Linked DNA regions of Homo sapiens. The protein of the gene in region 1 purifies or fractionates together with the protein of each later gene. This does not show direct contact. Each region holds a gene or a part of one and is shown on either strand. Other genes may lie near its edges. The genes, in order: BAZ2B and SMARCA5.

Region 1 (3,829 bases):
TTCAGTGTCCTGTCTTTGTTTTTATGATTGATGTTTTTAAATGTTTCAAGCTTGGTGAAAGTCTTCTAGTAGGTCAGGTCTGACAATCTGATTGGCTGTAGTAAGAAAGCATTAGGTTGTCAGAAGGACTTTGAGTATGCTGCAGAGATTTTGATTTTTTTTCCTATGAGATCATTGTCATATTGCCTGAGCTGTTATAGGAATGTACCAATGATTGACATTGCCTGCTGTGATAATGGACCTAGTGCATGAAATGCCAATAGTTCGGTCCTATTTGTTCAGAAGCTTACTGCTATTTGTATCCTTAACACAGCTAACATGTAGAACAAGCAAAACTACTGGGATTTCTCTGTAGAAATAGTGCTGGGATTTGGCTTTAACATGAATTGGTTGCATATTCATAATTTAAGAACAGCTGGTTACAGCAAGCACATAGTCATTTGCAAGCTATTATAAACCATTCCACTCACATGGAGCCTGTGCTTGGTGATTTTTTTTTTTTTTTATTGATCTACCTGCATTTAAAATCTGGTCACTGCTGCTACAGAAGCTCTTTATTTTAGCTGTGTTTGCAACACAGAACAGGTTCAATTTTAAATATTTAATTTAAACTTAATGCTGAATAAAATGAAGAAGCTTTGAAGGAAACAAGTGTAAAAGGTCATGTCCTACCTGTCACGGCCAGAATCAACCAAACAAACCTAGATTATACAACTATTGTAATTTTTGGAATATGTGTTTTATGATTTTGTCCATAGATCAATAACAGAATTATCCTGGATTTGGAAATATTGCTAATAATATTTTACTAGTTATACATAGTTTTGGGAAACAACATTAACAGTAGATTGTGATTAATTAGTCTAAAACAATGTCATCTAATATGTAGAAAAGTAGTATAATACTTTTAGCTTATGAGTGGTGGTGTAAAGCAAGATAGAAGGGAAAATTGGCATGACTTTATAACTGGATTAGAATAATGCTAATCCTAAAACTATAGAGTTACTCTAGTTTTTTAGAAGAAATCTAATAAGGAGTCTCTTTTGCTTTTTGAGTCACTTCTGGAGTATTAAGCACAGGTATGCTCTTACAGTATTTAGGTGGTATTGGTAAGTTAGGCCAGCTATAATAGTTTCCTGCATGTTGTCAGTAATAACTGTAAGGAAAGAGGAGAACACCTTTGTGTCTCAAGCTTTTAGTGAGAAGGGTGGGAGGAGAAAATGTTAAATGCTATTTCAGCTCTCCTTTTAGGAATCACAGGGAGCTGTGCTTTGATTTGTGTATATTAAAATAAGTGAATACCTGAGTGATTTACAATGATGCGTTTCCACACATGGTGTTAGGCTCACATGTGCATGTATGTGTTTGTCCCCACACTAGATGATGAAGTAGCTCTCAGCACTTCAAGGTTGAGTACCAGTCCTAAGAGTGCATTTTACTCTTTCTTGGCTTCAGAAATGGCTGGATAGGTTTGTAATATAACAGAATATATGGCCAAATTTAATCCAGCTGATAGTAGGCTGTACTTTTTTTTAAACAACAAATCCAAAGGTTATTAAAGGATGATGCATTGTGTTTTAGTTTTGAGTTGCATAGGATCATAACTATAATTAGTTAACTTTCCATTATTTGAGATTATATCAGGCATTTTGTAAATTATTTTATGTCTTCTTCACTCCCTTTTGACTATTGTCCTTTCATTTATTTCTCTGCTCTTTAGCATCTCATCACAGAATAAAGGAAGGAAAATTCAAACAAATCTGGTTTTCCCTGCCTTCCCCACTTCTTGATGAAGAGGGGTTCTTAGTTTTTGACTAAAATGCAGGTTTGGGATTTTATTTGTCTGCCTTTTCTGGTTCTCATTACATAATTATATTTAGAAAAGAAGAAGGGTGAGTTAATGGACTGGATTTTTATTTTTACTTTTTATTTTTTTGGAGACAGGGTCTCACTCTGTTGTCCAGGCTGGAGTGCAGTGGCACGATCCCAGTTTACTGCAGCTTCAACCTCCTGAGCTCAAGGGATCCCCACCGCCTCAGTCCGCCAAGTAGCTGGGACTACAGGCTTACGCTGCCATGCCTGGCTAATTTTTGTATTTTTGTAGAGACGGGGTTTTAGCATGTTTCCCAGGTTACTCTTGAACTCCTGGACTCAAACAATCTGCGCACCTTGGCCTCTCAAAGTGCTGGGATTACAGGCATGAGCCACCACGCCTGGCCTGACTGAATTTTTCTATACTGTATTAGTAACCCAGCAAAACAGAAAATTTAGACGTTGTTTGAAAAAGTAAAGTGACTCAGTGACATCCACCACAGAATTGCACATATTTGATACATTTGTATTATTCTAGTATTAATAATAGGAAAAGGAGGAGGCATCTACCTTCATTCTTTAAGCTTTTATTGAATGCTATCTCCAAGCATGCTCTGGGAGAGCTATGGATAACAATTTATGGAAGTTCATAGTAGGAGAGAGATGGCTTCTCATTGGAATAATTAGAAAAGGCCCTTCGGTTTAGGTAGCATTGAACTAGATCAAGAACAATTAAATTTTGAATATTCACAGATCAGGAAGAAAAGATCCAAGAAAAGAAGGACTGCATAAGCCTATTATAGAACAAATATAGAGCTAGAGCTCTATATTAGAGCCAATCCATTTGACATCTGGGATGGTTCTGCCTTTTCAAGGTCACCCCAACCCATACCTCTTCCACTAGAAGGAAAAGAAAATGTCATGGGATCCTTCCTTTCAAAATTGACTGCTTGGCTTTTTCTGGAGAAGATGGGTTAATCAGTTTCAATCCTCCATTTCAGTGATAGGCTTATTTGTGAAGGCCGGGTTAAAACTGACAAAACTACCCTTTCTGGTTAGAGGTATTCAAATCTTCTGTTTTGAGATTAACCAGAACCCCTCCCTTTTCCTTGGTTCTTTTCCTATGCTTTTGTGAACAGTTTTTCTGGAAATCTAATGCATGATCCCCCCTGCTAAGAACATTGAGTAGAGAGCAGAGGGTGATATATGTGTATCCCTTTTCTCCATGATGATGGCTCTGGCTCAAAAAACACTTTTACTTCTTTTAGTTCCTTCGGATGAATGCAGAAGACAAGCAGACTGCTGGACTGCCAGTAACGGGCATATCCATAAGGACAAAAAGGAGGGCCAGGCGTGGTGGCTCATGCCTGTAATCCCAGCACTTTGGGAGGCCGAGACAGGCAGATCACTTGAGGCCAGGAGTTTGAGACCAGCCTGGTCAACATGGTGAAACCCTGTCTCTACTAAAAATATAAAAATTATTTTTTTTGAGGCGGAGGTTGCAGTGAGCTGAGATAGTACCACTGCACTCCAGCTTGGGTGACAGAGTGAGACTCCGTCTCAAAAAAAAAAAAAAATAGAAATCCCACTAAAAAAGAGTATGAAAAAGGAAAGATTTAAAAAATTTTCAAAACACAAATGTATGAAAGATCTTTTACATAATGTCTTGGCCAAGGACAATAAATTTTAGTAGTTAGTCTTTTCCTAACTTCATTATTACTACATCATAATAATAATGAAATTTATTATTATTGCATATTAAATGTTTTATTTGCAGTATTGTGATGAACATTTACTTGCAAGAGATTTGTCATAAGAAAACCTTAAAACTTTTATGTAACCATTTTTTATCTTGTACAAGGATAAGTTTTGAGGTAAATTAAAGATGGAAAACAGTGGAAATAAAAAGTTATCTAGTGTCTAAGTTTAGTTCAAAGCCATGCTTACTATCTTTTCTGGTTTCTATGATGACATGGTTGTTGAAACATGCTTCTGATCTTTGGGTAATGTATTACTG
Region 2 (3,829 bases), on another chromosome or scaffold:
AAGTGCTGAACAAGATACATATGTGAATGCATATTTTACATAATTACATTTCTTAATTTATAGATAATGAAACAAAAGCCAAGAGCACGCATCTACAAGATGTTTGGACTGAAAAAATAATTATTGTAATTATGTTTGGAATCAAGATAAACTGCTTGAAAGAATGAAAAGGTTAAAACTGAAATGTCTTGAGGGAGAAAAACCAACAGAACCTAAAAAGCAGAAACAAGAGAGTATGATTAGGAACCTGAAAGAAATCAATTATAAAATCAAACGGAAATTAAAGTGAATAGCTTTGGACTAGCTTCTTTCTCTGAAACAGGAAGAAATGAGGTAGGATAATAGAGGCTATACATATGTTTGAAAAGAGAAAGAAAATAAAGACAGGCCTGCAATTCTTTGTGGAGGAAGATTGGAAATGAGGGCATGGTAGAAATGGAGAAGAAAGACTGATCAGAGTGGGGACATTTTAGAATGGCTAAATGAGACTGATAGGCAATAAATACTCAAGGTCCAAGAAAATAAAAACCATAAACTTATACTGGCACCAATCAGCACTAGTATTTAGTTTTCTGAAGTAGTACTCAGCATTCTGGGTTCAAGAACGAGGAGTGGATAGTGAACTTATCTATGGTTAGAACTAGCAGATGACAAGGGAGCTTCTTGCTTAGAAGAAAACTGTGCAGGTGAAGATCATGATGTCAAAAAAGGAAATAATGCTGGGAGACTGAAAAACCTGGAAGAAACGAAAAGAGTTCCAATAAAGGCCACTAAGAAAATGAAAAGCATTGTAGAGAGCCACTGAAAAACCTCCATTTCACAGTCAAATTTGTGTTATAAATAACACTTTGCAAAAATGTTAAGAAACTTGGAAGGGGCCAGATCATAAGAAAGGAGGCAAATACAGAAGCACAAAATAATCCATGCAATAATAGAAAAATACTAAACTAGGGTGATATGGAAAAGAGAATAAACTCGTAAGTAAACTTATTGTTTACAAGTATGCAGTACTGTCATGAACATCTTGAGTATACCTGAAGAGGAACTTTCATTCATTGAGGTAACACTAAGGTATGCTAAGTAAAAATTATGAATTCAGTTTTGGATATTCTCAAGTAAGAGGTATGAATAGGATTTTAAAGTAAATGAAAATACGGATTACAGGCTTCTGGGCTAGAGGTTAAGTATTTGAAAATATTCAGTTTAAAGATACCAGGTAAAAACCAGTAAGAATCAAACTGTCTAGGAAGAAATGTTCAAATTTTAATAAGGAAGGACAAAGGAATAAAAAAGCAAAGAGGATATTATCACGGGAAAAAATGTCTTTCAAGGCAAGTCAAGATTTTTGAGGAATGGTCAACAATGTCAAGCACAAATCAAGAAACTAAAACTAAGCCTCAGAATTGGCAATTAGATTCACCAGCAGAGTGTGTCAGAATCTAAACTATAAAGGGTTAAAGCAGTATTAAAATATGTAGACTGTATTCAAAGTAGTATTCACTTTAAAAAAACAGAGCGGCAAATCTATTTTTTCTCTAAGTTTGATAGCAAAAAAGGTGACAGTTACATATATACATATGTAAAATATATAACAAATCAAACCTAAAGATATATCATTTATAATTTACATAGTGTTATATGTATTGTGCATATTATACATGCACATAAAATACATACCATAATTTTAAGATTTTGAAGCTATTTAAGACATTCAAAAATATTTACTGATTTGGAAGAGAAAGTCAAAGGACAAGAAAAAAGTATGTTTTAAAAAATATGTAAGATCTGCTATGTGCCAGATACTGTTCTGGGTACTGAAGACAGAAAGAAAGATTAAGACACTGTTTTTACCCTACAGGAGCACACTGTGTAGTGGTATTCTTATTTAATACATTGTTATTTTAACTTTTTGAGATTTCAATACAATTAAATGAGTTTAATCCATATAAAGCATTCCTAACAGGGTCAGATACGGAGTAAACATTCACTGTTAGCCACTACTACTATTACTAAAACTGAATTTAAATTTAAAGCTCTGTGTAGGTACTGTTTAAGTCAAGTCATAGTTTTGAGAAGTTTCTTAGAAGATACGGAACGTGAACTGGGACTTGAATGACTCCAATATAATGTCATGTTCTTTTTGTAAAGACCCCATCTATAATATAAAAATGCTGTGAACAAGGAGCATATTTCTTTTTTTGGTAACTAGCAGAGTACAATGCTAGTCAAGTGCAGAATAAACATACACTGAGTAACTATTCTGGTCTTCACCTCGCTTCCAAGGTTAAATTTTTAAAGGTGTTGTTAACATAACTAGATAATGACATCATATTATGTTAATTCATATAATACTTCCATTTGGCTTACATAGACACATAAGATATGGAAGTTATAGTATTCCATATTACACATATTTCAAATGGATATCTGTGCCATAATTACAAAAATTAAACAGACATTGCTATGGTTTGACTGTGTCCCCCTCCAAATCTCCCATGTTGTAATTTAATCCCCAACGCAACAGTGTTGGGAGGTAGGGCCTAATAAGAGGTGATTAGGAAAAGATTACTGTCAGTATCTCAGGAGGAGGTTATCACCAGTGAGCTTGTTATAAAAGAAAGTTCAGTCCTGTCTTGCTCTCTTCTCTTGGCCTTCCTCCATATAATGACACTGCAAGAAGGCCCTCAACAAATGCTGGCCTTGACCTTGGACTTGCCAGCCTCCAGAACTCTAAGAAATAAATTTCGTTTCTTTATAAATTACCCAGTCTGTGGTATTGTTGTAACACAAAATGGACTAAGATAGATGTTTAGTACATTTAATCACCTGATAAAAAGTTTTCCTTATAGACTCTATTCACAAGCCTAGAACATACCATTTTTTCTTCATAGGTAGGATCTGGTTCTTGGATTTCCTTTTGCTTTCCAGGTGACGCATCATCAAATATTTCCTGGTAGAAAGAAATAATTAAATAGAATTGGTCTTCGAAAATAGTAAACATACCATTATAGACCAATTTCTGACCAAAACACATCTTAAATAATACATTCTCACCCCAAACTTCCTAGAAACTTAAACAGCTGTCATCTAAGCTAACAGAAAAACTGATAAAATGATATTAGATACTATGGGGATAACAACGTATTTAACCCATATATATAAACTGTATGGTTGTTGCCAAGATTAGAACACAAGATTATCTTCATCATCCTAAAAGAAAACTACATTTAATACAAGCCAATCTGTTTCTCTTTTTCTGTAATAACCATGAAACCAAACTAAATAGTATAAAATGTGGGGAAAAGTTCCCCTTTTGTCATAAAACTACAGTATCTACTGTGCTACCACACAAATGTCTACAAAGAAATCAGAATTAGTCACCCTGATTTCCACCTTCTGGAATATTACAAAAACTTTATCTCGCAGCCTAAATTGAATACTCTAACTACAGTCTGATTCCTAAACTAGTAATAAATGTTATTCTTGCAAATATATTTATCCTGACATTCATATGTCACAAGCAACAAAAAACAACTTCTACACTGCAAAGTTCTATTCATCCATTAAAAAAAATTGGCAGAAGTAATCTTCATTAATGATGCACAAATCTATGCTAGGCAATATATGCTATAATAAAACTATCTGTGACCAAAAAGTTGTGGGGAGGAGATCTGGTACGGTACTGGAATAGAAGGTAAAATGACCTTAAGTCAAGTCTAACTTCATTGTTAAGACCCTTGGCACTTGTGTGACCCTATGTTCATCATAAATCTCTGGTCTACATATGTAAGTGACAAAGCCACCTACCCAGTCCAGTTTACAAAATTCC

What was found.
Region 2: the proteins of BAZ2B (region 1) and SMARCA5 purify together in Homo sapiens (co-immunoprecipitation; one study listed by IntAct). This does not show direct contact.

What each region holds. Positions count from the first base shown.
Region 1 is NC_000002.12:159,606,483-159,610,311, reverse strand, and holds part of BAZ2B (bromodomain adjacent to zinc finger domain protein 2B), read left to right. Parts: intron 1-3,829. UniProt on the Homo sapiens protein: Regulatory subunit of the ATP-dependent BRF-1 and BRF-5 ISWI chromatin remodeling complexes, which form ordered nucleosome arrays on chromatin and facilitate access to DNA during DNA-templated processes such as DNA replication, transcription, and repair.
Region 2 is NC_000004.12:143,516,476-143,520,304, reverse strand, and holds part of SMARCA5 (SWI/SNF-related matrix-associated actin-dependent regulator of chromatin subfamily A member 5), read right to left. Parts: intron 2,951-3,829; coding exon 2,876-2,950; intron 1-2,875. UniProt on the Homo sapiens protein: ATPase that possesses intrinsic ATP-dependent nucleosome-remodeling activity.